7 linked regions of the Homo sapiens genome follow. The protein of the gene in region 7 purifies or fractionates together with the protein of the main gene of each other region. This does not show direct contact. Each region holds a gene or a part of one and is shown on either strand. Other genes may lie near its edges.

Evidence for each region.
Region 1: the proteins of PPARA (region 7) and SDHA purify together in Homo sapiens (co-immunoprecipitation; one large-scale study listed by IntAct). This does not show direct contact.
Region 2: the proteins of PPARA (region 7) and ACSL5 purify together in Homo sapiens (co-immunoprecipitation; one large-scale study listed by IntAct). This does not show direct contact.
Region 3: the proteins of PPARA (region 7) and AKAP9 purify together in Homo sapiens (co-immunoprecipitation; one large-scale study listed by IntAct). This does not show direct contact.
Region 4: the proteins of PPARA (region 7) and ESYT2 purify together in Homo sapiens (co-immunoprecipitation; one large-scale study listed by IntAct). This does not show direct contact.
Region 5: the proteins of PPARA (region 7) and RABL3 purify together in Homo sapiens (co-immunoprecipitation; one large-scale study listed by IntAct). This does not show direct contact.
Region 6: the proteins of PPARA (region 7) and NSUN2 purify together in Homo sapiens (co-immunoprecipitation; one large-scale study listed by IntAct). This does not show direct contact.

The regions. Positions count from the first base shown.
Region 1 is NC_000005.10:228,320-232,669, forward strand, and holds part of SDHA (succinate dehydrogenase [ubiquinone] flavoprotein subunit, mitochondrial), read left to right. Parts: coding exon 1-14; intron 15-2,556; coding exon 2,557-2,681; intron 2,682-4,350. UniProt on the Homo sapiens protein: Flavoprotein (FP) subunit of succinate dehydrogenase (SDH) that is involved in complex II of the mitochondrial electron transport chain and is responsible for transferring electrons from succinate to ubiquinone (coenzyme Q).
Region 2 is NC_000010.11:112,408,283-112,412,632, forward strand, and holds part of ACSL5 (long-chain-fatty-acid--CoA ligase 5), read left to right. Parts: intron 1-139; coding exon 140-239; intron 240-1,224; coding exon 1,225-1,403; intron 1,404-2,180; coding exon 2,181-2,213; intron 2,214-2,301; coding exon 2,302-2,353; intron 2,354-3,173; coding exon 3,174-3,247; intron 3,248-3,619; coding exon 3,620-3,697; intron 3,698-4,350. UniProt on the Homo sapiens protein: Catalyzes the conversion of long-chain fatty acids to their active form acyl-CoAs for both synthesis of cellular lipids, and degradation via beta-oxidation.
Region 3 is NC_000007.14:92,107,797-92,111,802, forward strand, and holds the end of AKAP9 (A-kinase anchor protein 9), read left to right. Parts: intron 1-697; coding exon 698-837; intron 838-2,325; coding exon 2,326-2,363; 3' UTR 2,364-2,877; downstream 2,878-4,006. UniProt on the Homo sapiens protein: Scaffolding protein that assembles several protein kinases and phosphatases on the centrosome and Golgi apparatus. Required to maintain the integrity of the Golgi apparatus. Required for microtubule nucleation at the cis-side of the Golgi apparatus.
Region 4 is NC_000007.14:158,734,917-158,739,266, forward strand, and holds part of ESYT2 (extended synaptotagmin-2), read right to left. Parts: intron 4,206-4,350; coding exon 4,107-4,205; intron 2,264-4,106; coding exon 2,132-2,263; intron 693-2,131; coding exon 587-692; intron 1-586. UniProt on the Homo sapiens protein: Tethers the endoplasmic reticulum to the cell membrane and promotes the formation of appositions between the endoplasmic reticulum and the cell membrane. Binds glycerophospholipids in a barrel-like domain and may play a role in cellular lipid transport.
Region 5 is NC_000003.12:120,697,514-120,701,411, reverse strand, and holds part of RABL3 (rab-like protein 3), read left to right. Parts: intron 1-2,838; coding exon 2,839-2,989; intron 2,990-3,898. UniProt on the Homo sapiens protein: Required for KRAS signaling regulation and modulation of cell proliferation. Regulator of KRAS prenylation, and probably prenylation of other small GTPases. Required for lymphocyte development and function. Not required for myeloid cell development.
Region 6 is NC_000005.10:6,598,302-6,602,457, reverse strand, and holds the end of NSUN2 (RNA cytosine C(5)-methyltransferase NSUN2), read left to right. Parts: intron 1-2,225; coding exon 2,226-2,532; 3' UTR 2,533-3,219; downstream 3,220-4,156. UniProt on the Homo sapiens protein: RNA cytosine C(5)-methyltransferase that methylates cytosine to 5-methylcytosine (m5C) in various RNAs, such as tRNAs, mRNAs and some long non-coding RNAs (lncRNAs).
Region 7 is NC_000022.11:46,233,649-46,237,998, reverse strand, and holds part of PPARA (peroxisome proliferator-activated receptor alpha), read right to left. Parts: intron 2,867-4,350; coding exon 2,619-2,866; 3' UTR 1-2,618. UniProt on the Homo sapiens protein: Ligand-activated transcription factor. Key regulator of lipid metabolism. Activated by the endogenous ligand 1-palmitoyl-2-oleoyl-sn-glycerol-3-phosphocholine (16:0/18:1-GPC). Activated by oleylethanolamide, a naturally occurring lipid that regulates satiety.

The sequences.
Region 1 (4,350 bases), on a different chromosome or scaffold from region 7:
GTTGTTGCCACAGGGTAGGAATCTCATTTCTACTTTATTTTGTTTATAAAAATGAATAAATTTCATTTAGAGTTTCTTTATTTTAATGAAAATAGAGGCATTGTAGAATAACGGTTTAGACACAGGCCTTGATATAACCATGTGAGGGTGATGGCCTTTCCCAGCCGTGGTTCCTCACCTGTAAAGGGTGAGGACAGGAGCACCTGCCTCAGGGTGAGAAAGCATGGTCCTCAGTAGATGGTAGTGGTTGCCCTCAGGTTCACAGCTTACCTCTCCCAATTTAGATGAGGGAACTGTGGCCCAAAGAGTCAACATGGGGTTTTCTGGCAAAATCTCTCTTGTTTTAGTGGGTACTGTATTGATACTGATTCCTCGGGTGGGTAAGTCCTTCTTCTCCACATGATGAAAATAAGTAACTTTAATTTTATACACTGTCAGTTACTTTAACCATTTTAAAAGTTAAAAAGTGTCAGTACAGCCAAACAAAAAATCAGCAAAACTACAGGTTGGGAAGAAATATTTTCCAAACCATATGTGTAATAATATCTTACTATCTAAAATAGCAAAAAAAAAACCCTACTAAAAACAACCTACTAAACCCTACTAAAAAACAACCCTACTAAAAATGGGCAAAGGACTTGAATAGATATTTTTCTAGAGAAGACATACAAATGGCCAATTGATGTATGAAAAAATGCTCAACGTCACTAAGCACCAGAGAAATGCAAATTAAAACCCCAATGAGATATCATCTCATCTCGCTCCAGTTAGAATGACTGTTACCAAGAGGACAAAAGAGCAAGTGTTGGTGAGGATGTGGAGAAAAGGGAACCCTGTGTGCTGTTGGTGGGAATGTAAATTAGTACAACTATTACGGAAAACTCTGGAGGTTCCTCAAAATTCATAGGACTACTATGTGCTCCAGCAACCCCATTTCTGGGTGTATATCCAAAGGGCATGAAATCAGAAGCTCAAAGAGACACCTGGACCCTATGTTCATTGCAGCATTATTCACAATACCCGAGATATGGAAACAACCTAAATATGTGTTGGTGTTTAATGACAATGTGGTGTGTATACACAACTGAATATTATTCGGCTATGAAAATGAAGGAAATCCTGTCATGTGTGACAACGTGGATGAACCCAAAGTCATTATGTTAAGTGAAACGAGCCAGGCACAGAAAGACAGATACTGCATGTCACTCATGTGGAATCTAAAACAGTCACAACTCACAGAAACAGAGTAGGACAGTGGTTGCCAGGGGCTGGGGGAATGCAGACTGTGGCGATGCTGATTAAAGGTGTAACTTCCCGTTACAAGGTGAAGTTCTGAAGGTCTAATATACAACATGGTGGCTATAGTTAACATTATACAGCATGGTGGCCAGAGTTAACATTATACAGCATGGTGGCTATAGTTAACATTATACAGCATGGTGGTTAGAGTTAACATTATACAGCATGGTGGCTAGAGTTAACATTATACAGCATGGTGGCTAGAGTTAACATTATACAGCATGCTGGCTATCGTTAACATTATACAGCATGGTGGCCAGAGTTAACATTATACAGCATGGTGGCCAGAGTTAACATTATACAGCACGGTGGCTAGAGTTAATATACAGCATGGTGGCTATCGTTAATATTATACAGCATGGTGGCTAGAGTTAACATTATACAGCATGGTGGCTAGAGTTAATATTATACAGCATGGTGGCTATCGTTAATATTATAACTTGAAATTTGCGAAGATAGTAGACGTTAGGCGTCTGTATCTCCAAAAAAAGGATAATTGTATGAGGTGATAGATGTGTATTAACTTGATTGTGTCATCATTTCACAAAATAAATCATCACGCTGTACACCATAAATATATAGTTTTTTTTTTAAATTCATCAATCATACCTCAGTAAATCTGGGGGAGAAAAAAATCCATAAAAATTTTAAAATTTTCATTATAAAAGTAGTATATGCTTATTGGGGAAACCTTTTGAACAGCACAAAGCTAAAATACAAATAGGGCCAGGTGTGCAGTGGCTCACGCCTGTAATCCCGGCACTTTGGGAGGCCAAAGTGGGAGGATCACTTGAGGTCAGGAGTTCGAGACCAGCCTGGCCAACATGGTGAAACCCCATCTCTACTAAAAATACAAAAATTAACTGGGCGTGGTGGTGCACACTGTAATCCCAGCTACTCGGGAGGCTGAGGCGGAAGAATCACTTGAACCTGGGAGCCGGAGGTTGCTGTGAGCCGAGATCGCACCACTCTACTCCAGCCTGGTCAACAGAGTTAGATCCTATCTCAAAATAAATAAATAAAATACAAATGGAAGTCCTTTCTTTGATCCCAGGCTTCTATCCTACCTGTGCAGGGTAGCAGCACCAGTGGCGCGGCCCCTAGTGATATGTGTGGGGTGTGCGTGAGTAGGGGGTTGTGTGTGCACAGCACTGAGAAGACGGTGCTGGGGGCTGCCGTGTCCATTCTGTGATCTCACCAGATAGGAGGTCCAGATGTGGGCCGCTGTGTGCAGTCACTGCTCTCTATTGTTTCCAGAGGCTACGGGCGCACCTACTTCAGCTGCACGTCTGCCCACACCAGCACTGGCGACGGCACGGCCATGATCACCAGGGCAGGCCTTCCTTGCCAGGACCTAGAGTTTGTTCAGTTCCACCCTACAGGTAGGGCAGGACGCCTTGCCCGGCAGGTGTTTGGCTTGTGTGTGTCTTGTAAGCATGTGATGCCTACTCATTGCTCTTCCATAGTTTTATGTAATAACATGGTTTTGAAGATCAGCTTCCTCAGCTCTCAGGTCCTAACTTCAACGTCATTTACCTAAGGAGACTTTTCCCACACTCCCCTTCCCCTAAGGCAGTTTGGGCCACCGTCTTATGTATTTCTCAAGAGCGCTAAACCCTGCCTTGGTGATACTTAAGCCAGCAGTAAAGCAGGGATTGAGGCCGAGCACAGTGGCTCACTCCTGTAGTCCCAGCACTTTAGGAGGCCAAGGCGGGCGGATCACCTGAGGTCAGGAGTTCGAGACCAGCCTGACCAACATGGTGACACCTCGTCTCTACTAAAAATACAAAAATCAGCTGGGCGTGATGGCGTGTACCTGTAATCCCAGGTACTTGGGAGGCTGAGGTGGGAGGAATGCTTGAACCTGGGAGGCAGAGGTTGCAGTGAGCCGAGATCGCGCCACTGCACTCCAGCCTGGGCAACAGAGTAAGACTCCGTCTCAAAAAAAAAAAAAAAAAAAGTAAAGCAGGGATTGTTCAGTGTCCCTCTTCGCAACGAGGTCGTCAGCTCCTCGGGCAGGCAGGTCTTCTCGTTAGCTGTGGTGCTCCATGCCCAGCACATGGTAGGGTCTCCACCGGGGTTTACTGAGTGAACATTCTGAGAGCTGGGAGAATGCCATGGAACCGAGAAGCAGCACAGGCAGACTTCAGCTTTGTAGGAGAACACGGAGCTTCTGTGACAATGGGATGTAAAGTTAGGACGCAGCCGTGACAGAACCCCATGTGACATTGGGCGCTGGGCTCAGCCCACGTGACCACTGAGAGAGCTTGTCGTGGGGAAGATGAGCTCGTCTTGGGGACGTCTGACGGTTGAGGTTACGAATGTGCAATTCGGAGACATTAACTCAGAAATGACAGTTGAAGTCTTGAGTTTGGAGGAGGTTCTTCAGAATGAGTCAGAGACAGACACACACCTGCCTCTTGTTTGAGGTGACTTGTCCTATACTTTTCTGGGTTGCTTTTCTGACCTGTGGACGATGGAGACCTCTGAAGTGGTGCCAAAGAACCAGACCTGTGTCTTCTCTTTCTCTGTCAGTGTCAGCTTTCTGATCCCTGGAAGGGATGAAAATAAGAAATGAATTTGTTGTAGTGTTTTTTTTTTATTTGTTTCGAGATGGGGTCTTGCTCTGTTGCTCAGGCTGGAGTGCAGTGGAGCAATCTTGACTCACTGCAGCCTTTGTCTCCCAGGCTCAAACGATCCTTCCACCTCAGCCTCCCAAACAGCTGGGACTACAGGCATGTGTTACCATGCCCAGCTAATTTTCGAGGGTTTTTTCGTTTTTGGTAGAGACGGGATGTCACCGTTTTGCCCAGGCTGGTCTCAAACTCCAGGGCTTAGGCCATCCTCCTGCCTCGGCCCCTCAGGGTCCTGGGATTATAGCCATGAGCCACTGCACCCGGCCTGTTGTATTTTTTATTACTGTTTTTAATGAATAAAATGTCACTGAGCCCCTGAATTCCCTCTGTAATTTGCTTAGAGCTCCACTGCTCATGCTTTGTCTTCAGTATGTGAGAAGTAACCACAGAAAAAAGAGCATTGAAACTTAGAAAA
Region 2 (4,350 bases), on a different chromosome or scaffold from region 7:
AGTGAGGCACTGTCTCAAAAAAAAAAAAAAAAGCAAAACAAAACAAGACAAAAAACCAGACAGCATTTGTTGGCTGAATGACTGAACTGGTACTCTTCAGTGTGCCCTCCAGTCCTTACTTGAACTTCTCTCTGTACAGTGGATCATCTCCGAATTGGCTTGTTACACGTACTCTATGGTAGCTGTACCTCTGTATGACACCTTGGGACCAGAAGCCATCGTACATATTGTCAACAAGGGTAAAATTTTGCTGTTACATTACAACTTGATTCTTTCTCAATGCTGAGTATTTCTTCAATTTCTGCTTTTTTGTTTATTTGTTTGTTTGTTTAAGCAAACTTGAAATGCTGTGGTCGGAAAATGTTCAAGTCTTTCTAGTTTTGTAGTACTTAGGATATAATTTTCAGGAAAGCTACAAAAAGCCCATGAAGCAGAGATACACACAGAAAGAAGTTTCAATGACATGCGTCAGGGTGACATGGTATGATGATATAGAGACAAGACTACTCACTCTGAACACACTAGATAAAAGCCCAGAGAGTGAGCTTAATTGACTTAATCACAGTAAAGCTACAGATTTAATTTCCTACCTTTGTAAATCCAAGTCAATACAGTTAACCAGCATGTACCAATGTCCATGGTGAGTCTGCAGAAAATAATTGTCGTTGTTAGAGAAACAAGTCCAAATTTGATGGGCAAGTAACAGCCCTTTCACATATCCAACATGTTACCTTCTGTCATGGGACTAGTAGATTAAGTGAGTAAGTCCATTTGCACAGTAAACATCATTTGAAACTTTAAACATGCATCAAAGCAAATGCTAAAATTTAGAATTGTAAAATACTTGTCAGCTAAAAATCCTATTTGCCCCCTTCTTTTTCTTCTATTCCCTACTATCCTCCTCAAATAAAACAGTGATAGAACCACACCTCAGTAACCTGTTTAGGTTATCTGAATGACTTCTTAAGCAGAAGGAATTCTGTGGTTCCTCTAGAAACTGTAAAATCTGCTGGCACAGTTCAAGAACATGTGCTTCTGTTTCAGTTAAGTTCATTTATCATCAATGGAATGTTTCAGGTTGTACATTATAAATCTGATTTGCAGGTGTAATCTCCTTTGGACACCTGTTAGCTTTGAAAACTTTTAAAACCTCTTCCTTCTTGCAAGGCAATCAGGTACTTAGCAGAGAGAGGGAATGACCTCTGGTTCTATTTTGGCTTCCAGCTGATATCGCCATGGTGATCTGTGACACACCCCAAAAGGCATTGGTGCTGATAGGGAATGTAGAGAAAGGCTTCACCCCGAGCCTGAAGGTGATCATCCTTATGGACCCCTTTGATGATGACCTGAAGCAAAGAGGGGAGAAGAGTGGAATTGAGATCTTATCCCTATATGATGCTGAGGTATGGATCTGAAATTTAGCTTGCAGCTCCAATGCTTGTCCAACACCTTGGGCAACTTGCAAGATACCTTCCCAAGAGGACAGTGTTCTTGTTCTCCAGGGGTGGCACGTGAGGAGTAGATTAGACTCATGCTGTGAAGCTCTGAGAATAATTTCCACAAGACAACTTTGAAACTCATGCCAGGAGAGGACAAAGTTCTGTGGCCAGCTGTATGGACTTCTAAGTGGATAATATATAAATAGGGGTTTAGTAATAGTTAAAGGATGTGGCTCCTGGAGCCAGGCTGCTTGGGTTCGCATGCCAGCTCCACATCTGTTAGGCAACCTTGGGCAATCTCATCTCCCTTCTCTCGGTCCGTAAAATGGTGATAAAAATAATCACTACCTCACAGAGGTCTTGTAAAGAGTTAGCTTAATTCATATATGTAGATTTCTCAGGACAGTGATGGATATGTAATAAGCTCTGAAAATGTTAGCTATTCATTTCTTTCAAAAAAGATTTAGTTAGGGCCCTAGATGACTGAAACTTAAGAGTACAATGGGAAGTTTGAACATGCAATCTACCCTCTATAGGTAGATGATTTTCTAGAGAAATCTTATGCTCTTCCCTGGGGCTTCCATTGTTCCTGAATGTTGGCTTCTGGTCCTGATCCAGGTTGGAATTTTGCTTATATTCCCATAGAGATGTTCTCACGGGAAAGGGAGGGAGAGGGCCACATTTATCACAGTCTGTCCATCTCAACTAATGTCTTTCTTTCTTGGTTTTCCATTCACATAGAACCTAGGCAAAGAGCACTTCAGAAAACCTGTGGTAAGTTTTCTTCTGCCTGAATTTGAGCCTTGCCATAGTCAACTCTCAAAGTTCATGGTGGAATAAGCCCTTGTGCTTCCTCCTCCAGCCTCCTAGCCCAGAAGACCTGAGCGTCATCTGCTTCACCAGTGGGACCACAGGTCTGTGCCCATGAAACTGAACCTTAGACCCCTGGTCAGCCAAGAACATGGCTTCAATTCTTGGCCACTGGTAGGCTGGTAAATACTCCCTCTAAAGAGCCCTATACTTAGGGGCTCACAGCCTAAGGCTTCTAAGTGTGAATTCCCAAATGGAAAAACATAAACATAAGTAAATACACTTTATTTAATATATTGGGAGGTGTTTATATTCAATAGATTTCAGGGGTCTTAAAGATGATGTCAGAAAGTCCTTTCCCCCGCCCCCACCAACCCACCACTCTCTTGATTTGACACCGCTGGAATGGTTTCATTCAATCAAGATAACTCAGTGATAGTTCTCCATAAAGGGCTTCAACCCCACCCTACATCCACCCATCTGTTAGAATGCTTAATAGTTTTTAATGTGGTCCATCATGGTCTACAGTTATATTCTTTCTAGTATGCCCAGTTTATAAGGTTTATAACCATATCACTATATAATATTGGTAGATCTGGAATTCCAAACATATAAACAGCATGAGATGTGGGGCAGAGGGACAAGGAGGGTTAACTTGAATTTTTCTTTGCAGCTGTGCTTCTATCTGAAATCATGGCTGTGCTCTGCATAGTAGTAGAAGGCCAACGATGCATTCAGCAGTAGAATCTCCGGGGGCATTAATTATTCCTAAACAGAGGCATATACCATCCACAAAAAGACACAGTGACAGGAAATGCTCTTGGCCTTCTGGAATAAAACCAATTGAATCTAGTTTCTTTCAAGGCCAAAGGCTACCTATTAGCTACATAAAGTATCTTTCTCTCCACCTCTTATTTCCTACAGGTGACCCCAAAGGAGCCATGATAACCCATCAAAATATTGTTTCAAATGCTGCTGCCTTTCTCAAATGTGTGGAGGTCAGTGGTCAGTTGAAAAAGAGGCTCTCATTAAAATGTGAATCTGTCATAAGATTTTTATTTTTGAGGTTAGAGCAGGCAGACACACACACACACATACACACACACACACACACACGTTAAAGGCTGGAGTGTGGACAAACACCAGCGTGTTCTTTGTTTAGAGGACTGTACATTTTCAAGCGTTGGTCTTTTAGGATCACTGCAAATTTCTACACTATATGCAGTTCAAGGCATCTCAGATCTACACAGTGTACCGCCTATACAGCTGTCTGTGGTAGTCCTGGGAGGAGGTAGTTTTAAAATCTCCATTGGAATTGAAAGTTGGCATTAATCTCATGTTGCCTCCTCTTACTTCCCTGGCCTACATAGCATGCTTATGAGCCCACTCCTGATGATGTGGCCATATCCTACCTCCCTCTGGCTCATATGTTTGAGAGGATTGTACAGGTGAGTGTTCTGTGTTCCTAGCAGTATGTGGCAAGGGGGTCCTGACTTGCTATCACATGTTTATTCCAAAGGCAGCTACACAGTATTTACTGTTCTTTCTCCGGTGTGAGAGGTGCAGGCAAGGAGTTGGCTCATGGGAGCCCTAATCATGGCATGGCCCCTCATTTCCTGCAGAGTCTTCCTCTGCTAAGTCTGCATGTGTCCAGGGAGGATAGTACTTGCTCCTGCCTTCATGGGGGTGTGTGAGTCTAGTGACATCACAGCTAGGAGCTTACTATCTATCTGCCCTTAATTCTGAGCTGACACAAGACATTGTCTTCTTTTTAAATTTTATTTTGGTTAGAATTTTTGAAAAGATCTAGGATTAGAGAAAAGGAAGTTCCCTACAGAGGATCAGGGAAGGAGCATTTGATCTACATAAGGTGTGAGATGTCCCCCGCGCCGGTTTTTGCACACCTGAGTGTGTAAGGTGGTGCTGTCAGCATGGTGCATACCGGAGGAGGTCTGCTCTTCTGTGAGTGGACTCCAGGCTTTTCAGGCTATTTTGAGGCTGATTTGAGAACCAAGAGCCATGTCAGCCTTTCAAAAACGCAGGTAGTGTGGTTGGAAAGTTCTCTCTCTGCTCCTCGCTACCCCCAAATGCCTCTTCAACA
Region 3 (4,006 bases), on a different chromosome or scaffold from region 7:
GCTGAGATTGTGCCACTGCACTCTGGCCTGGGCAACGGAGCGAGACTCTGTCTCAAAAAAAAATACAAAAAAATTAGCCAGGCATGGTGGTGGGTGCCTGTAATCCCAGCTACTCAGGAGGCTGAGGCAGGAGAATCGCTTGAACTCAGGAGGTGGAGGTTGCAGTGAGCCGAGGTCACGCCACTGCACTCTAGCCTGGGCAACAAAGCAAGATTTGGTCTCCAAAAAAAAAAAAAAAGAAAAAAAATATACATAACCTAAGGCTTAATGTAAAAATGTAAAAACCAGTGTTTAAATTTGTAACTGATTTCCAAGGGTATAGCAAACAAGCTGACCAAGTGTTATTTAGTGTATGCTATGGTTAGATATTGGGAAAAGTATTGACTAAAATTGATACTCTGATCATTATGAAAAGCTTAACAGTCTTCATGACAAGATACATTTATACATACCCAATTTATTGAGACCTCTGCCACAAGCATTGTATTGGACATTCTTATGTTGACTTAGTAGCATCTTTGAATTCATTGGAGAGTTGTCTCTTTCTCATCCCAAGCTCCAAAGCTGAAGCTTGGAGGAGATACATTATGTGTGTACAAGTGACCCACCTTTTTGGGGAAGGGAGTGGAGGCAGGTTGGTAACTTATATGCATATTTCTGGATAACTTGATTCATGTACATATTTTTAATCCTTTAGGTACCCAGGCACTCCAGCTGATTTCAATCCTGGTTCTTTAGCATGTTCTCAGCTTCAGAATTACGATCCTGACAGAGCCCTAACAGATTATATCACTCGGCTAGAGGCACTGCAAAGACGACTTGGAACTATACAGTCAGGTGCTCTGAGTTTAACCACATCTTGGCAGCACCACAGTGCGAGACCCACAGCTCCCCTTTCTTTGAAATTCTTTCACACTCATTAGGATAATCAAAGCTTCCAGTTTAGTGCATGAGCTAATTATTAAGTTAGCCAAAGCTTAAACTCTTGTAACCAGCAGAGAAACTGACTTTAAATAATTTAAGTGAAAATATGATTTATCACCCCAGATCCCACTCCTCCCAAAAATGATTTCCTACTATGTTCATTCAGCGGACTGATGACACAAAATGCACAATGAGCACCAGTGTGCAAGGTACTCTGAGTCTACAGAGCCTAACTGGAGAACGTATTCCTAAGTAGCGCATGGCAGAAAGTGGTAAGGCCGTGCCGCAGCACTCCAGCCTGGGCAGCAGAGCGAGACCCTGTCTCAAAGAAAAAAAAAAAAAAAAGAAAGTGGTAAGGCATGCAAATCGGGTGGAGTTAAGGAGGAAGCACTTACTTTAAGCACTTAATGTAACCATTATCCCTGCTACTATATTGTGCTTTTATGTATCATCGAAAAAAACTATCCCATTTAAAATACTTTGTAAGGATTATTTTTTCTTTGTTCAAAAACAAAAAACAAGTCATACTTTAAAATAAAGGTGGATTCCCTGTTCATGGAAGGAAAACCTCTTTTCCCTATCTCACTTCAGTTCACTCCTGATTCAGAGACTTTGAATCATTGAGTAGTTTATCTCTTCCTTCAAGAAATCATTTGTTTACACCCAAGCATCTTGTAGTAATAGGAAACTTTTATTATCATAGCTGAGTTTGTTGGTTTGCCTAGGCTTGTTTTGTTTTGAGCATCCAAATTTCACAAGACCCAGATTTTGAAGACCAAAAGATTTTTCAAAAATGTATGAGGTATAGAACATCCAACTTTGAGAGCACTTTAAAAAAACTCTAAATATTAGTCTCACCTACCTTGCCATAGAGCCAGTCATGGTGATTTTTACATATATATTCAAAATCTCTTAAAAGTCAGCTTAAGTATATGGGCTGGGCGCGGTGGCTCATGCCTGTAATCCCAGCACTTTGGGCGGCCGAGGCAGGCGGATCACTAGGTCAGGAGTTCAAGACCAACCAGTTCGAGACTAGCCTGGCCAACATGGTGAAACCCCGTCTCCACTAAAAATACAAAAATTTGCTGGACATGGTGGCATGTGTGGATAGTCCCAGCTACTCAGGAGGCTGAGGCAGGAGAATCACTTGAACCCAGGAGGCGGGGGTTGCAGTGAGCCAAGATCACACCACTGAATTCCAGCCTGGGCAACAGAGTAACACTCCACCTTGGGGGTAGTGGGGAGAGACTCAGTTTAAGTATGAAGAGGACATTTTAAGGAAAAAAAGGGCTTTAAAAAAATGGAGAATAATAATAATTTCCTTTGTGTGAACTCTGGTGGGTCTGATACAGGTAGCAATGTAATTTGAAATCAGTTGAATTTCCTGTTTTTCTCTCATAGGTTCAACTACTCAATTTCATGCTGGCATGAGAAGATAATCCTTTGAAACATCATTAATTGAAGTGATTTTAAATAGATTTCCTTTTGTAAATCAATGGTTCTTTTGTGCTTTTGTATTGTGAATATTCAATGGGACCAATATGAACACAGCTTATGATTGTATACAAATCCCTTGCCAGCACATGAAAACAAACTGGAATTTGTATATATAAGCATTGTGTATGTATTCATGCACAATAATTATTGAATTACCTGTATATTTGTGGAATGCTAATTTAAAACATTAAATTATAAACCTTGTGTATTTATCAAATGGGTGAAAAGATTAAACTTTTACGCATTACAATACTGCTGAATGTGTAGCTCGAGGTGTCCTGCACTTTTCTTATAAGGCTACTGAAGTTACATGTTTTGCCTAATATATTCTACTGGTGATGAAGACAGATAATATCACTTGTAGAGACCTATTTTTGTATAATGGTAGAAGTTTTGAATTTTATGGGGTATTTTGTCAAGTACTGAAATAAAAATGACTTCACCATTTTCACCACACTGTATTTGAACCTTCTTCATTTTTAACTGAGCCATAGTTCTTGGTACATAGCATCTCATTACTTATGTCAAATATGTAGGAGTGAGAGATTCAGAGAAAGTTGTCCTAATCTTAGAGTTAATACTGTTGAAAGTTTTCCATGTGTCTTTGTATCAACTTTACATCTACATAGTGTTTTTTAAAAGCTATATTGGTATTTCATGATTAATCAGTATTTACTATATTACAGTTAGTGTTACTTGTTTCCAAAGATGTGTTCTCACAAATCCATGGCCCACTAAAAAGATGAAGAAATCATTAACTCAAAAGATCTTAATCACATTGCAGCCGAATTAAACAGTATCCCTGTTGTCCAAGCCAAATTCAGACTGGGAGGCTCTCACAGAGATAATACAGATCGCAATGTTATTTCTCATCTGGAGTCCTCCTCAATAACATGGCAACTCACTAAAACAGCAAGAGGACTAGTATTTGATGCTTACACCTGGAGGATTTTGTCTTATTATTTGATGTTCCATGATTTATACCAACACAAACAGGCATGGTAGAAAGTTGTACATGCTTGAACATTTCTAATTTCAGTCATCCCTCGGCATGTGTGGGGGATTAGTTCCAGGATCCCCCTTGGATATTACAGTCCGCGAATGCTTAAGTCTCTTATAAAACAATGTGCTATTTGCAGATAGTCTACATACATCCTCCTGTGTACTTCAAATCATCTCCAGATTATTTGATACCTAATACAATGTGAACATTATGTAAATAGTTGCTAATACTGTATTTTTTTATTGTGGGGTTTTATTTTTAGTATTTTGAACCTGCAGTTGGTTGAATCAGAGGATACAGAACCCACAAATAAAAGGAGCCAACTATACTTAAATTTTCCACATTAGAAGCTGGGTTCCAATAAGAGGAATTCTAAAAATAGCAAACGTACTCTAAAGCAGTTAGTTGAAGGGGCAGGTTGTGGGTAAAAACCTTTTTCAGCTAGCATGGCTTGCCATTCAAGGCTATTCTGCTCTAAGAGACAGTGGAGAAAAAAACAGATGGACAAATGATCTGATCAAGCTGAGTTCAGTGCCATTGTTTGACCACCACGCCTCCTTATGATAGTAGGCCTCTGCAATC
Region 4 (4,350 bases), on a different chromosome or scaffold from region 7:
TTTCAATCTTTTCTACCCCCCTGAGCACCTGTAAGCTACATCGCTGAATACATCTAAGAAATCCTTCATGCAACCAGCAGTCTTAAAATTCAGCTATGACGGAATATCAGCGGAGATGACTCACAGAAGGGTTGGCCCATGTGCCCTCCATGGCAGCACAGCTGACGAAATGATGCCCGTGACTCAAATCTCTTCCTCCCCAACTGAACCTACTCTCATTCCTAAATAACATACACTCACATGCCAAAGTGAAATGTGAAATACGGACAAAGAGTAGAAGAAATTCACATAAATAAAGCCAAAGAATTTTAGAAAAAGAGCAGAGCCATCAGTTGAGGAGATGGAATTGTAAGAGATTATTTTCCTTCAATGTGATACTTGAACAAAAATGTGAAGACTTAACTTAAAATATCTTCAGAAAGCACAGATGTTTTGACTGTCTTTATAGCCCATGATTTATAAACAAGCATCGACCTCGTAAGTTCGCCCCTTCCACTTACACAGACATGGTCTAAACACTGCACTGCAGGTAAATGTTCAATTTTACAAACTGCAGGAACTGGTTGAGGATTCGTTTGGCACTTACTTTGCCAAGGAGCCCTTTGTCTTTGGACAGGAAGCCGCCACTGTTCTTCACGGCAACGTCGAGCGTTCTCCTCTGCACTTCTGGTAACGAAACACTGAAATCAAAGCTGAAATAGGAAACGAGAGCCTTACTTTATCCATCATTCTGCTGTATTTTCTTATAACTAAAAATGGCATTTCTGCTCATGAGATCATTCCAAATGTCATGTTTGTTTTTTATTATAAAACTGAGTTCTTCTACCTAATGTTTTAATCTGGCATTTCAGGAAGACTCAAAAACCAACATTTTTTTCATTTCCCACACATAAAAGAAGGCTCTGGCATCCCATAGATGTCTGGGTCCCAAGGTCCCTGGCTCACTCACGGGTGGGTGAGGAGCGTCTCTCAACATGTCTGACTCTTCCAGGGGATTAAAATGTGGGATAATGTTGACAAAACAGCAATTCCAGAGCAGCCCACTCACTCAGGCTTTCCACTCAGTCTGGTTTAGTCTTCAGGCCCTATTCCCACCATCTCCAATAAAAAAAAGTATGTGCTTGCAGCTTCGCAGGAGGGAGAAGGCCTCCAAAGCACTCCCGATGCTCAGCCAGACGCTGCACTAAAGTGCCTGCAGGGCGTCTCTCCTCCGGGCTGCGGGTGCCTGCCCCAGGCCACCGTGCTGGGGGGCAAGTGGAGTCTCCAGACGCTTAAATGCCTCGGATGGGTAGGAGCACCCTGCACAACCTCATCGGGCTGATGCACGCCTGCCAGTTTCTGATGGGTGTTTTACATAAAGCTACTTGTATGAAAGTACAATGAATGAGGAGGATGTTTAAAGATGAAACGTAAACTGAATTAGCAGATAGCGACACCATACAACTGTATTATTATCATTTCCCAAAACAAGGGTGGGTTTTGAAGCACTAGGGGACAATCACCTAAGATACCAAAATGGTACAGATTAGCAGCTCTTTAAAAGTGGGGGCCAATGACCCCTGGGGGTGTCTCTGAGACCCTCCTAGGAGGTCACCAAATCACCCTGACCACAGAAGCAGGCTCCAGCCCCTCTTGAGCCAGACCACTAAAGAGATGAGCAAAAATGCTGAACAATAATACCATTCTTTTCATTATGTTTTTTATTTTTGGAAATACAGTTGTTTTTCCAATATGTCATACGGTAAGATGTTTGGGGCTTACTGTTATTTAAAAATAAAATTAAAAATATATGTATCCTTAAATTCTCAGTTTTAATTGATAACATAGTTAAGTGTCAACAGATATAACCCCCAAAAATGAGTTCTTCAGGGCCATCAGTAACCTGATCTTTATTTAATCACTAGTCTACATGTCCACAGGGTTGTAACTTGAATTTACTGTATTTAGAGCTTCTACATGAAGGTCAAAATGCTTATTTGTTTTGAGAAGTATGTTTGCTAAAAGTTGGTTTCTGATTGAACTTCTCAACAGCTGATTTATGTGCTTTGGCCACTCAAAGGCACCATTTAGGGCCTTCTTAATCCGTCACTTCAACCGGGCAGTCTATCCTCAGCTGGATAAAATACCGTACCTTTGATCAAACACTGGATTTAATGTTTTCTTTGACACGTGTGTTTTCCTCCTTCCTGACCGCCTCTTGTCTGGTAATAAATACATGCGGACATAGGGGTCAGAGCCGTCTTCAGAGAAGGCAATGAGGTTTCTTACAACACAAACCAGATAAGACGAGGTATTAGGACCGAGAAAAAGAGAATGAGCAGCACATTCAGATATGCTTTATCAAGCTTTGATTTCATGTTTATCTACAAACCGAGAAGCAACAAGGAACAGAATGCGTGAGGCGCTTTTGCCTCCCCCGACGGCTGCCTGGTGGCATCTCCCAAACTCCTTTCTTAGTGGCTTTCTCAGCAGCGACTTCGGCCTTCATTTCTCAAGCCCAGAGTTTGGAGGACGTTCCAAGTCCTTGGTCTCTGCTTGTAACAGAGTGACGGTTGTCTTTCCATAATGCTTCTGCCATTTTCTCTCTCACAGCCAAGAAAGCCAGGCCCCCACCCCACAGTGCCTACCCCTCCAGAAGGGGGCTGCTCCTTTGCAGCAAACGCGGTCAGGTGCCCAGCTGCACAGGCCCCCACATTCTTCGCTTGCTGACTGACCACAAAGTCTAGGAGGGATTGTTTTGCTAGACTCCTCTACAACAGTATCCCCCACGATCATTATCTAAGTGGCAAGAATATATGAACTTCTCAAGAGTGATGTACTGAACTCTACATTTTTATCATCTTTCTAAATGGTGCTAATTTTATTTTCCTATGTTTCCAACAGCTATTTATAAGCACCAAATTTTTATATCATATTTTAAACCACTAATAGGACAGAGAAAATTGCATAAAAGGAAAATAGTTCGTAAGCCCACAGTATCATTGTTAACAAATGCAATTAATGCAACAGTCACCTGACTTTATACTTATTAATATAACAAACAAGTTAAAATAAATTCTTCCTGATTAGGCCAGTCATGGTGGCTCAAGTCTATAATCCCAGTGCTTTGGGAGGCCAGGAATTAGAGACCAGCGTCTCCATAAAAAAATTAAAAATTAGCCAGGCCTGGTGGCTTCCACCTATAGTCCCAGCTACTCAGGAGGCCTGGCCAACATGGTGAAACCCCGTGTCTACTAAAAATACAAGTTAGTCGGACGAGGTAGTGCACGCCTGTAATCCCACCTACTCGGGTGGCTGAGGCAGGAGAATTGCTTGAACCCAAGAAGCGGAAGTTGCAGTAAGATGAGATTGTGCCACTGCACTCCAGCCTGGGGGACAAAGTAAAACTCTGTCTCCAAAAAAAAAAAAAAATACACACACACACACAGACACACACACACACACACACACACACACACACACTCTTCCTGCTCTAGGCTACACATTTGTACAGTATGCTACTGTGCTGAATACTGTAGGCAATTGTGACATATTTGTGTATTTTTTTTTCTTTTTGAGACAAAGTTTCGCTCTTGTTGCCCAGGCTGGAGTGCAATGGCACGATCTTGGCTCACAGCAACCTCTGCCTCCTGGGTTCAAGTGATTCTCCTGCATCAGCCTCCCTAGTAGCTGGGATTACAGGCATGCACCACCACACGTGGCTAGTTTGTATTTTTAGTAGAGACAGGGTTTCTCCATTTTGGTCAGGCTGGTCTCGAACTCCAGACCTCAGGTGATCTGCCCACCTCAGCCTCCCAAAGTGCTGGGATTACAGGCGTGAGCCACCATGCCAAGCCATATTTGTGTATTTAAACACATAAAAGGTACAGTAAAAATACAGTATGATCTTAGGGGACCGTTGTACTTCGGTGACCAAAACGTTGTCATGTGACATACGCAGTGGTGACACCCTTTACGAGCACCGTCTCTAGAGGTTTAATTGCTTTGTCCTTTCTAAATGAAACATAAATGGATGTTTGGAAATCCTAAAGGCGGTGTCTACATCATCCTATCCAGCATCCACACTCAGCAGCACAGCAGCGGGCGCGTGGGACCCCAGCCCCCACCTGCAGGCATGCACGACCACGATAAGCTTGTTTCTCTGCGAGCTGTGCCGGATGGTCAGCTGGATCTGCCCCAGTGGAGACTGTCCCAGGGTCGTCCCGCTGTGGGAAAAGAGCAGAAAGTCACCAGCTTGCCTGAGACTGGAGAACGTTGTGATTCATTGGTCCACTGTACACGATAAAATAATTTCTATTCATTTAGACAAAAAGAAGTCAAATTACCCATGAACTTAAACATAATTTGAAA
Region 5 (3,898 bases), on a different chromosome or scaffold from region 7:
TCTATAGATAAACCTGCAAATGTATAAAACAACCTTAATACATTGGTGTGCTTTGTTGGTGCATTATTGTATAGCATCAAAAAATTTGGAAACAACCCTAGTGTCCGAGCAACGAAAGATTCATTGAATAAATAATGGCATATCCACATACTGGAGTAGTATTCAATGTTTAAAAAAGAATCAGGAAGATCTCTATGAACTAAAATAGAAAGATCTACAGAGGGTACATTATTAGGTTTAACAAATCAAAATGCAGAGAATATATATCGTATACCTCCTATTGTATAAGAAAGAAAAGAAATAATATGTATTTATATTTGGATAAAGAATCAGTGAAAAATAAGAAACTAATAAAAATGGTAACCTATAGGGGGCCAGGGGAGATGGGTGGATGGGTACAGTGGTAGGAGCAAGACTGCTTAGCATATATCTTTTATATCAGTTTGAGTTTTTAGCCATATTTAAACAATTTAGGTAAATTTTATATTATGTAGTTTTTACCACAATAACTTTTTTTAACTTTTTATTATAGAAAATTTTAAACATATGTAAATACAAAGAATGGAAAATGAACTCCCATATACCCGTTGCCTAGTTTCAACAATTATCAACATATAGCTAGTCTTGTTTCATCCATATCTCTACCCACTTTCTATCTTCTCCCACTCTCAACTGGATTATTTTGAACCAAATGTTAAAACATCATATCATTTCATCCATATATACTTTAAAACATAAGGGCTTTTTTTTAACATGACACCATATAATTATCACAGCTAAAACTTTAATAATAATTCTTTAATAACCAAATATTATTTTAATTTCCCCAATTGTCTCATAAATGTTATAATTGATTTTTTCGAAATAGTATCTAAATAAGGTCCACTGGTTGTATTTGGTTTCTTAAGTATCTTTTAATCTTAGGTTCTCCCTTTTTGGTTGTTTTTTTTCCAACCTCCTAGCACTTTATTTGTAGAAGAAGATGGCTGTTTGTCTTGTACAGTTTCCTATATTCTGGATTTGCTGATTGTCTCCCTGTATTGTCTTTTAAACTTGTTTCTCTGAATTCTAAATCTTCTCTGAAGTGATAATTAAATATAGTGGTCTGAAAGATGCAAGTTTTTTTGTCTTTATTTTTCCACCCAGTATTATGCATATAATATGATACCTGGCTGTGTGTCTCTTTGTGATGTTAAGGAGCTATCAGCCTTATCCATCCATGATAAAGTTCTTCAGAAGTTTACCAAAGAAGATTTCAAGATTAAATTTTAAATTGGATGCTGCAAGATTTTATGAAAAAGTTAAAAGGAAAGCTAAAAAGAGAAATAAGAGAGCAAACTATATATGTATGCTTTATATGTGTCAGTGTGCAAGGAATTGTGCAAGACTATATGAGAGATGTATGTACATCAAAGATGATATTTGATAGAAGATATGCAAAACTTTGTATGTGAGACAGAAGGAAACAGTCCTAAAGGAAAGACACTCTCAAAACTTCATTCCCTAACAAAGCGAATTGTAGCTTTGAACCATGTCTCTTTAATTAGAGTTGCTGTTGATATGAATAATCAAAGGTCTTGATCATGCTATTATTGGCTTTGATGCAATAAATAGAATGGTAATATTTTTGTGAGATGGGAGGTTGTATAGTAAAACACTTGTGTTCCGAGGCTGAACAGTTTGCTGAGGCGCTGTAAGATTATTGTGAAGGGCATAAATACTTAGTAACTTTGCCCCCTACCCCAATTTAGAATTTCTGTAAGAGAAAGAAAAGTAGTGTTAAAGGAAGAAAAAAAGCTATGCTCGACTGGGTTGTAGTGATTGGATTATGCAATATTGATTTACTGTCATAAATTGTGCACAACCAGATTTTGCTGACTGTTGTAAGTTGAGCTTATAACGTGTCAGAAATCCAAATCTGTTTTATTTCTAATATGTGAGTAGAATTTAAATTAATTCAACAGCAATGGCCTCTGTGTTCTTTTCAGTAATGAGAAGTATCATTTACATCACCACTCTGTTCTTTGGATAAATAAATTTTTTAAAAAATAAGGATTGTAATAGCCAGTGATCCAAGGCCACTAACCCTAAGTGGTTCTTATTGCCCGTCCTCTATCTCCCATGGCTCTCATTTCAGGAAACAACTACTTGGTACTAAGTTCTTTCCTTTTACTATTCATTTTGCATTTCAGCTGTTTCCTTCCATTTCCATGTGTTTAATCCACCTTTCCCAGGCTATAGTATCACCTATATTTGATTTATTCTAGGCTTCAGCTTCCCTATTTCTATTTTCTTATTCTTCTTATTTCTTTACTATTCAGACAGAAATGTGTATTGTAGATATAGAATTAATGCATACCCCAAAAGGTACCCAAGAAGCTTGCCATTTTCTCTTCTAGCACAAGGCTTGAGTGCCATGCTAGGCTTTTGGGTTTTTGCTACGATGAGGCTTAAATCCACTCTCTGCTTCTACTCTGAAATATTCCTGAGCTGTTATGTTAACCTTAGAAGACACAGCTACATTGGAAGTTAAGTCCACTGACTGTAATATACTTGATGGGCACTTAGTTGTTCAATTATTCAGTATTGTTCAATATTCAATAAAAACATGGGACCAAATTTTGAGAAGTTAGATGAATAGCTGGAATCTGATGATGAGGATGGATTGATAAAAGAACAAGTAGATGGAAGAAGTTGGAAGGAAAGTAGGTTTGTAGGTGAAGGCAGCAAAAATCAGTTAATTTTCAGTAAAATAGTGTAACTTAGTTGCACTTAAATATTACACATCTACACCAGAAAGATACATTCTATTCACCTCTTCATTATTATTTATCACAGGGATTATGATCAAGAACAGTTTGCTGATAACCAAATACCACTGTTGGTAATAGGGACTAAACTGGACCAGATTCATGAAACAAAGCGCCATGAAGTTTTAACTAGGACTGCTTTCCTGGCTGAGGATTTCAATCCAGAAGAAATTAATTTGGTATGTATTTTCACTAATGCATGCTTGTATTATTATCGGGTAAAGACAAAACTGAAGACATATTCAAATAATATATTCTAGTGAAAGAAGCTTTATACTTGAAATCAGGCTATTTGGATTCTAGTCTAAACGTAGTCAAGATTGGAATCAACATATCTAGACTGAGAGATGTGCACAGTCACTTCAGCCTTTTATGTTGGTCTGTTGGAATGTTCCAACTTTATTCTATGAATAATTTAAATCATAGGCTTCTTTTTTTGAAACAGAGTCTCGCTCTGTCGCCCAGACTGGAGTGCAGTGGCGCGTTCTCAGCTCACTGCAGCCTCTACCTCCTGGGTTCAAGCGATTCTCATGCTTAGGCCACCTGAGTAGCTGGGATTACAGGCATGTACCACCATGTCCAGCTAATTTTTTAAATATTTTTAGTAGAGATGGGGTTTTGCCATGTTGCCCAGGCTAGTCTTGAACTCTTGACTGGATTTGCCCTCCTTGGCCTCCCAAAGTGCTGGGATTACAGGCGCGAGCCACTGCACCTGGCCCATGGGCTTTTTCTTGAGAAAGGTTTTTAAAATCACACCAAAATTAAAATAAATTGATTAAAGTGGCACTATAAGCATATTATTCTTGCTTTTAAAAAGCCTCTTAGCTTCTTAAACTACAAATTTTACCTTAAAGGGCAACGTAACAAATACATGAAAAAATTGCAAACCTTAAACTAGGAGTGCTTCATAAGGACTAATTTATGTACACTTATGCATATATAGAGGATTGAGTCCCTTGATGAGATAACTAGCTCAATGAGAACTGAGCGCGTAAAAAAGCTAAGAAATGGTTGTCATGTAAGCCTGTTAGGATCCCAGAAAAAGATCCTGGCCAGCAATTTCAGTCATGGTCATGTTGTTCACAAAT
Region 6 (4,156 bases), on a different chromosome or scaffold from region 7:
AGTCAGTACACGCCCTGCCCTTAGACACACACGCCTTGTCATTAGCTACAGTGTTCTCGTTGGTGAGGAAAGTGACTTGGGAAGGTGGGAACCTTCTTCAGGCCTTTTGTGATTGTTCCTCAGAAGTAGCCTTGTGAAAACTTCAGAACCAAAATATTCCTGTAGGTCATCATGAAGATGCTGTTTCATAGAACACTCAGCTCAGGCTAAGTGAATTTTTACTTACAGAGAATAAAATGCATAGTACTTATTTTTTAAGCATTAGAAACCAATGAAAATTTCTGTCTTGTACAGAGTAAGTGTGAAGATTGGACAGTTGAGTGAGGTTCCGTTCTTTTGTCCTCATGGCTGGTTCAGCCATGTGTGTTGCTGACATGTTACTGCATCAGGAGTGCTAGGGCCGGAGCATGGGATTTGCTCACGCTTGCACTCACGGTCCCCACGGGACCACTGCTCCACGCTGCTTGCATGTATTCACGCTGCATCCTTGTGGGGGGCCTTGGGGGAGCAGGTGCTGGTTTTGGCAGCACTTGCCAGAGGAGGAAGCCGGGACAGAAAGTTAGGTGGCTTGCCCAGAGCTCCTCAGCTCACGAGTGGCAGAATTCGGATCTCACCTGCAACAGCTCCGTCTTGGTGACATGCAACACCATTTCTGAGAGGAGGAAACAGAATGGGGTCCACGGCTGACTGGGATTTGGGGGAGTGAATAGGTAGAACCACTGTACAGATTTCTTTGGGAAGTTAGTGTTGGACCAGGGATCCAGTGCTAACTTGAAGGAACCACCAAAGCGCAGATCCTGAGGCAGGTGCAAGCTGGGGGTCGGGGCGGGCCCAGCCAAGTAGGGAAGGAGGAGGGATAGGTAAGAGGTTGGCAGGGAGGCCGAGGGGCCACATGTCCTCAGGGTTCAGGCTGTCCGGCTGCCATGTGGAGAGAGGACAGGTGGGGGCTGAGGTGGGAGGGGCAGGAACTTGGTGAGGGAACAACAGATGGATGGGCTGGAGAGGTCAGCGAGGCCGAGCGCATGAGCACCCTGGGGACCTGCTGGAGGCGGATGGTGTCTGGATGGTGAACGGGCAGGAGCATCTAGTGATTGATGGCTTCTGGGTGTTTTTAACGAGAGTTTGAACAAAGACTCAGAAATGGTTTTTAAAATAACAGTCCCATGTGGCCCACATAGAAAATATTGGGATATTTTAAGGTGTGGATTCACTTTTCCATATTTAAACACTTGTTTCTACTTGGTGAAATACACAGGTGACAGGTCAACTTCAGGAATAATGGTTTTTTTTTTTTAAGAAGATGGGAGTTGGGAATTTCTTATATTTTCCTCTCACTTCTTAAAACCACCTTTGTGCCCCTGCTTTACATTAGGAAAAATGGAAAGGTGATTAAACACGGCCGTTAGGAGCCTAAAATCTAGGTCAGAGTCCCGTATGAAAGAAATCAGATAAGTTGAGAGAGGGCGTGTGCAGGTTGGAAATGGTGGCGTCCATCTCTGCTGGGGCGTCGATGCCTCCTGGCTGGACAGGTGGAGCCTGGAAGGTAGGGAGGCTCGGAGCATGTTCAGAGAGGCAGGGATGTTTTTGACTGTGGGTAACACTGCATGCTGGGAACGGAAATGAGCACTGTGTGCCCAGCAGGGCTCAGACTGCCATGTGGGGTCCCTGGAGAAGAAATCACGCTAACACTGAGTATCAAAAGGATGAGTGGTCCTGGGTTCTGCTCTGGCAGCCCTGCTAAGGGCAGAGTCTCCCGGTGGTCCTGGGTCCTGCTCTGACGCCCTGCTAAGGGCAGAGTCTCCCAGCCTCTCAGGAGCTTCAGTCCACTTAGGAAACTTGAGGTGAGCTGCAGGGAGCCTGTGGAGAAACGCTTCTCATTTAGTGGGGTGAGGTGACACGGGGTGGCGGGGACAGTAAGTTAAGTTTGAGAAGGAAGTATGTAGAAAGTGTATGTGAAATCTGTAGATTTGGGGCCTCTACTCCATTGTGAACTTAAAGAGGCAGGGCGAAAGCGAGGGTGAGAATTTTACTCAGGACATGAAGAAGGAAGTCCTTTGAGAAAACCTACCCCTCGGATCCAGATGAAATGTCCTCCCAGTAGTTTTGGGGGTTTTGTGGGTATGGGTTTTCTGTGGTTTTCTTTTTTAAGCAGTTGCATATTACATCTCATTCGATTTAGTTATGGGAATGTTTAATGTTCTACATGAAGCCACTTTCACTTGTAGGAATCCAGACGCTCTGCAGTGTCCCATCGTCTTATGCGGATGGCGGGGAAAGGCCTCCATTCGAACTTTTGTGCCCAAGAATGAACGGCTTCATTATCTCAGGATGATGGGGCTGGAGGTATTGGGAGAAAAGAAGAAGGAAGGGGTTATCCTCACAAATGAGAGTGCAGCCAGCACCGGACAGCCAGACAATGACGTGACTGAGGGACAGAGAGCAGGAGAGCCCAACAGCCCAGATGCAGAAGAGGCCAACAGTCCAGACGTGACAGCAGGCTGTGACCCGGCGGGGGTCCATCCACCCCGGTGAGCAGGCCCAAGGCAGCGGGGGCCCACACCCCTCACACGCAAAACTGGCTTCTTCTGGTCACTGGTGTCTGAAACCAAATCCAGAGCAGCCTGTGGCCTGTAAAGCATATATTTCTAATGACTGCAGACTGGTGGGATCATAGGAGCCTTCTGAATGACCAGGACTGCTTTCTTTGGAGCTGATGAAAATGTACTCTTTTAGCGTGTTAGAAATCACTTGTTTTATTTTGTTTCTTTGGCCAAGCTGGGTCTAGTGTTTCTTTTGCTGGGAATAGACTTTCAAAAGTTGTACTTCTATCAAGAAACAAAACTGCCCTTGCAGAAATTTCAGGTCTTTTGTTAAGCCTGTATTGGTCTTAAGGTGCAGTATTTTTTAAATTATTATTTATAGAAAGAATCTATAAATTCTTGGGGAAGTGTGTTATAAGCTTTAATAATTACATTGAGCTGCACCTCAGTGGTGTGTCATTAACATGCAGTGGGGTTAATATCTGAGGCCTCAGATGACTTTGTGCCTTTTGGAATAAAGGGTAAAATAAACTCTCCCAGAGTAAGAGCTGTATCGTGAATTGTCATACTAATTATTGAGGGGGACTTATGTGCTTTTATTGAATGGAGTGCTTTACAATTTTTATTTTTAAATGGGGTTGGGATCCTTGGAATATTTCAATAAAATTGATAAAATATATACATGTGTGATTCCTGTTTTTGCTCTTAGGAAGCAGAAAGAACAAACTTACTTTTGGCTAAATGGCAGTGTTAGAATACATCCTTATTTTCTCTAGTGAAAGCGGTTTTACTGTGAAGGCTGCTGTCTTCCTGTCTACCTCATTTTGTGTGTTGGTCTGTACAAACACCGACCACACACTGCCTTTGGTGGATTTGTCTCTGGAGTCTCCACTGTGGAATACTTTCAAGCTCTGTGGCGTGAAGAGCTCCTATTTCTCTTTCGCCCACATTCTCCACTGAACATTTCTCTACATTTGCATTTGCATCCTCTGGTGTGCTTGCATGTCACTCATTGTTTTCTGAACCCTTTGACAGTAAGTTACAGACGTGTTCCGTTACCCCCTTGCTCCTGTGGTGTTTCCTGGAAACAGAGGCCCTCTTTACAGCTCGCAGCATAGGCGTCAGAAACGTGGATGCAGGTCACCCTCAAACCAGCAAGCTCGCTCCAGCGGCCCAGTAATGTCCTTTGCAGTCACAATGTCCAATTTTGTCTGGGGTGACACCAGTTGCCTTTGGCTGTCTTGTCTCGAGTTCACTACCGTCAGAAACAGTTCCCAGTCTGTCTTTTATGATTGAGACAGTCTTGCAGGGTACCGGTCAGGTAGTCTGAATGTGCTTCAGTTTTGGTTGGTCTGAAGTGTCCCTGTGATGTGTGCGTTTTTGACAGGAGGACCACAGAGGTGGTGCTGTGTTCTCGCTGCGTCATGCCAGGAGGCTGACGATGTTGGGTTTTCTCTTTATAGTGGTGGTGAAGTTTGTTTTATTATTAGTAACATGGTATCTGTCTGCCAAGTTTCTCCACTGAAAAATTTGTAAGTATTGTGCAAGGAGACATTTCAAGACTATATTCCTCTCTCTCATCAAACTTTTAACTGCCAGCTTTAGTATTTCTTGAT
Region 7 (4,350 bases):
TTATGAAAATGTAAACAGAACAATGACTTCTCTGAAAACCATGAGGCTCACTTTCCTGGACCACATCTCCTTGAATGGCACAGGGTACATCAGAGCGAGCAGCTGCAGGGTCGCTGGGGACAACACAGGCTTGGCATTGGGCTCCAGCCCCTGGATCTTGTTGACACAGGGGCTTCTCATTTTAGGAAATAATACTGAAACGGATGCACCATGACAGACACTCAAAGGCTAGCTTCTTTCTGAATTAGGATGGCCACTTGGCTGGTGGCATATATGGAAACACTTTTATTTGCTTTTGGTTCCTAAGACACTTGGGCAGACTGCCCGCCGCTGCTGCTGCCATTGCTGGCCAACAGCCCCTTTGATTGCATCTTTTTTTTTTTTTTTTGCCGGGGTGGGAGAGGGTGGAATCTAACTCTGTCACCCAGGCTGGAATGCAGTGGTGAGATCACAGCTCACTGCAGCCTCGACCTCCTGGGTTCAAGCAATCCTCCCACCTCAGCCTGCAGAGTAGCTGGGACTACTGATGTGTGCCACCCCGATGAACTAATTTTTAAATTTTGTGTACAGACAGGGTCTTGCTATGTTGCCTAGGCTGGTCTCGAACTCCTGGGCTCAAGTGATCCTCCCACCTCGGCCTCCCAAAGTGCTGGGATTCCATGTGTGAGCCACTGTGCCTAGCCTGATTACAAAAACCAAAACGGACTAAATTTGTAATTTTTAAAAAAGGATGTCCTAACCCTAACTTTCACTTTTTTCTAGTGGAAGTCTCACACTGTGTCCTTCCCACTCTCGCATTTTCATAATGCTGGTCATGGGACCCTTATCAATCCTAATCATTCTTAAAATAATAATGACCTCAGAAGAGCCAAATTTTCTAAAGATGGGGGAGAGGCATCGACGATACCTCCAGGTGCCCAGCGACTCCCTGGAGGCGGTGGTCCTGGCAGTTCCAGTCCAGATCTAAAAATTCTCAACAGGACAATTTATCTACCAGGTGGACAGAGAGAGAAAGTGTTTCCAGGTCCATATATTCTTGACAAACTACCATAATCAACGCTGCCTTCCCAGCTGGACTGAGGTTGGTAAGTTGGTTTTGAAGGCTAAAACAAAAATTTTAGATGTTGAAAAAACTACCTTACATACAAAGGAGACTTAACAACCTAAACCATTGTAAAAAATAACCAACTCTTGTGAAATCTGCCATTTGAAGTAAAACTGCCATTTGAAGAAGACTCTACCCCCTCTCTCGATCCGCAGGGTGACTGGCTCCCACCCAGCCCAGGCTATGAAGACACATGTGCCTCGTCTGCGCTCCAGAGAGCATCTACTGTCACCAAGAGTTAAAACAATAAAACATCATATCTTTAAAAGCAACATAACAAAAGATACGGGAGCTGCCAAATGGGGCCCGGAGGAACACTGACAAGTAAGGTGTCAGTCTGTCCCTAAGAACACCACCATTCCCACAGACAGCTGGACTGGGTGGGTTCAGGTTGACTGGACGGAGCTGAGTGGAGCAGGAAGCTGGCGGGCTTCGGGAGCTTGTCTCGTCCCGCTTACCACGGGTGCTAGCTTATGACAGTCCAGAGCGGGGGTCTTGAGACTCTGTTTTCTGGGCTCTTCTACGCAAACCTGGAAATGGGCCTTTCCACATATTAGTTACAACCACGAAAACAGTGAGCCAAAAACAAAACAACAGCTGCATTTTGATAGCTTATCTAACAGATTTTTTTTTTGTTTGTTTGTTTTTAAGACAGAGTCTCGTTCTGTCACCAGGCTGGAGTGCAGTGGTGCAGTCTTAGCTCACTGCAACCTCCAACTCCCTGGTTCAAGCAATTCTCCTGCCTCAGCTTCCCGAGTAGCTGGGATTACAGGCATGTGCCACCACACCCGGCTAATTTTTGTATTTTTAGTAGAGACAGGGTTTCACCATGTTGGCCAGGATGGTCTCGATCTGCTGACCTTGTGATCCACCCGCCTCGGCCTCCCAAAGTGCTGGGATTACAAGTATGAGCGACTGTGCCTGGCCCAAACAGTTCTTTAAAATTCTCCATCCTATGATTAAAAAGCAGCATGTTGTCTTTCTTTAGATTCAGGAAACAGAAGTGAAGTCTTTGAAATAAATATTTTGCTGCTTTTTACATACTTCACCTTTGGATACATCTAGACTTATAGGATTATAAACATTGTTAAAAAGTGCTGATTAGTTTTCAGAATTATAAAGGAGCACAATAGTCAAAAGCGGGGTGAATGGGAAGACAGGCCACGAATTTTGAGGTTACCAGTTAATTAAATGGTAAATCACGAATGTGATCTAAAGCAATGTGCATTGATTAACATCGGGTGAGTTAAAATCAGACCATTGAGCATAATTCGCCGTAATCTTCCCAGTCCTGAGATTAGCCACCTACCCCCAGCATTTGAGTTCTATGCTCTTAGAAGTACTGGTTAAAACAAAGATATGGAATAATATGCCGGTTACCTACAGCTCAGACTGTCCAAGCTCTAAGGTTAAAGTGGTGGATATTTGTGCAAAATCGTGCTGCTCCCCCGTCTCCTTTGTAGTGCTGTCAGCTTCAGAACTCCTGGAAAAGGTGTGGCTGATCTGAAGGAACTCAGTACATGTCCCTGTAGATCTCCTGCAGTAGCGGGTGCAGCGCAGCATCCGACTCCGTCTTCTTGATGATCTGCACCAGCTGCGCATGCTCCGTCACCAGCTGCCGGAGGTCTGCCATTTTTTGAAGAAGTTTTGGGAAGAGAAAGATATCGTCCGGGTGGTTGCTCTGCAGGTGGAGTCTGAGCACATGTACAATACCCTCCTGCATTTTTTCAATGTGTCCTACGTTTAGAAGGCCAGGACGATCTAGTCTCGAAAGAAGAGAGAGAGGTTTGAGTGTGATAATCACCCAAGAACTGCTTATCAGTTTCAGGAACCAAACATGCCTATTTTATGTGGCCTTTCTTAGAAAAAAACTGAGCTGCCTTTAGATATTGTCAACTTGACTGGAAGATAGACATAGGTTTTTCCAAAGTCAATAGGTGAAGTAGGGACAGACAGGACCAGTACTCTTTCCTAAATATTCATACTACTAGGCGGCAATAGTGCCCTAAGTACACCTTATGGTGCGGCCTTTTCACTTGTGATTTACCTGATGACCACCTGTCAGGGAGAAAAATTAGAGCTAGTAGGAGGAACAGTACATTCTGGAGATCACAACCACCAGTTTTGCATAATATGGGAAATGAAGCTTTTGAATCCAAACTAGATATCAAGCTTCAAGTGTTCCACCATATTTAAGGAGTGATTGTGTTAGAACTAGGTTTTGTAGGCCAGGCACGGTGGCTCACGCCTGTAATCCCAGATACTCGGGAGGCTGAGGTGGGAGAATCGCTTGAACCTGGGAGACGGAGATTGCAGTGAGCCAAGATCAGGAGACCCAGAGTGGGGAGGAGGGTGGGGCAGGTCTGAGACTTGGTGCAGGAAGAGTCAACATTCACACCAGATGACCTGCCTGGGGTAGCTGGCACTAGACATCCTGGGACAGTCTCAAAGCATGAGACCTGATTCTTGGTCCAGAAAATACTGCCCTGAGCCATGTTCAGCAGGCGGTGCTCCCTTACAGACCCAGTCATTACTATGATTCTTAACAGGGTTGCTAGTGATGAGGATTTAAACATCTTCATTGTTTTTGGTTGTAAATGTAATTATTAAGTTTTTATTTCTAAAATTCTTGTTTTTGTATTGTTTTAGTGATGGGGTCTTGCTCTGTTGCTTAGGCTGGACTGGAACTCCTAGGCTCAAGCAATCCTCCTGCCTCGGCCTCCAGAGTGGCTGGGGCTATAACTATTAAGTCTCTAAAGAGAGGAATTATTGCCGGGTGCAGTGGCTCATGCCTGTAATCCCAGCACTTTGGGAGGCCGAGGTGGGTGGGTCACCCGGGGTCAGGAGTTTGAGACCAGCCTGGCCAATATGGTGAAACCCCATCTTTACTAAAAATACAAAAATTAGCCAGGTGTGCTGGCATGTTCCTGTAATCTCAGCTACTCAGGAGGCTGAGGCAGGCGAATCACTTGAACCCAGGAGGCGGAAGTTGCAGTGACCTGAGATCGTGCCACTGCACTCCAGCCAGGGTGACAGACGGAGACTCTGTCTCAAAAAAAAAAAAAAGGAGGAATCTTTTGAAAAATAGAAATCCCCCCTCATAATTTTAATCCCACCATAATAGGTTTAACATATATCTCACTGGACATTTTTCTATATACATAGGATTGATATAGGATTATAATTTCCTTTATAAAACTGTGATCATGCTACATATAAATAGTTCTGCAACTGCATTTTACCCA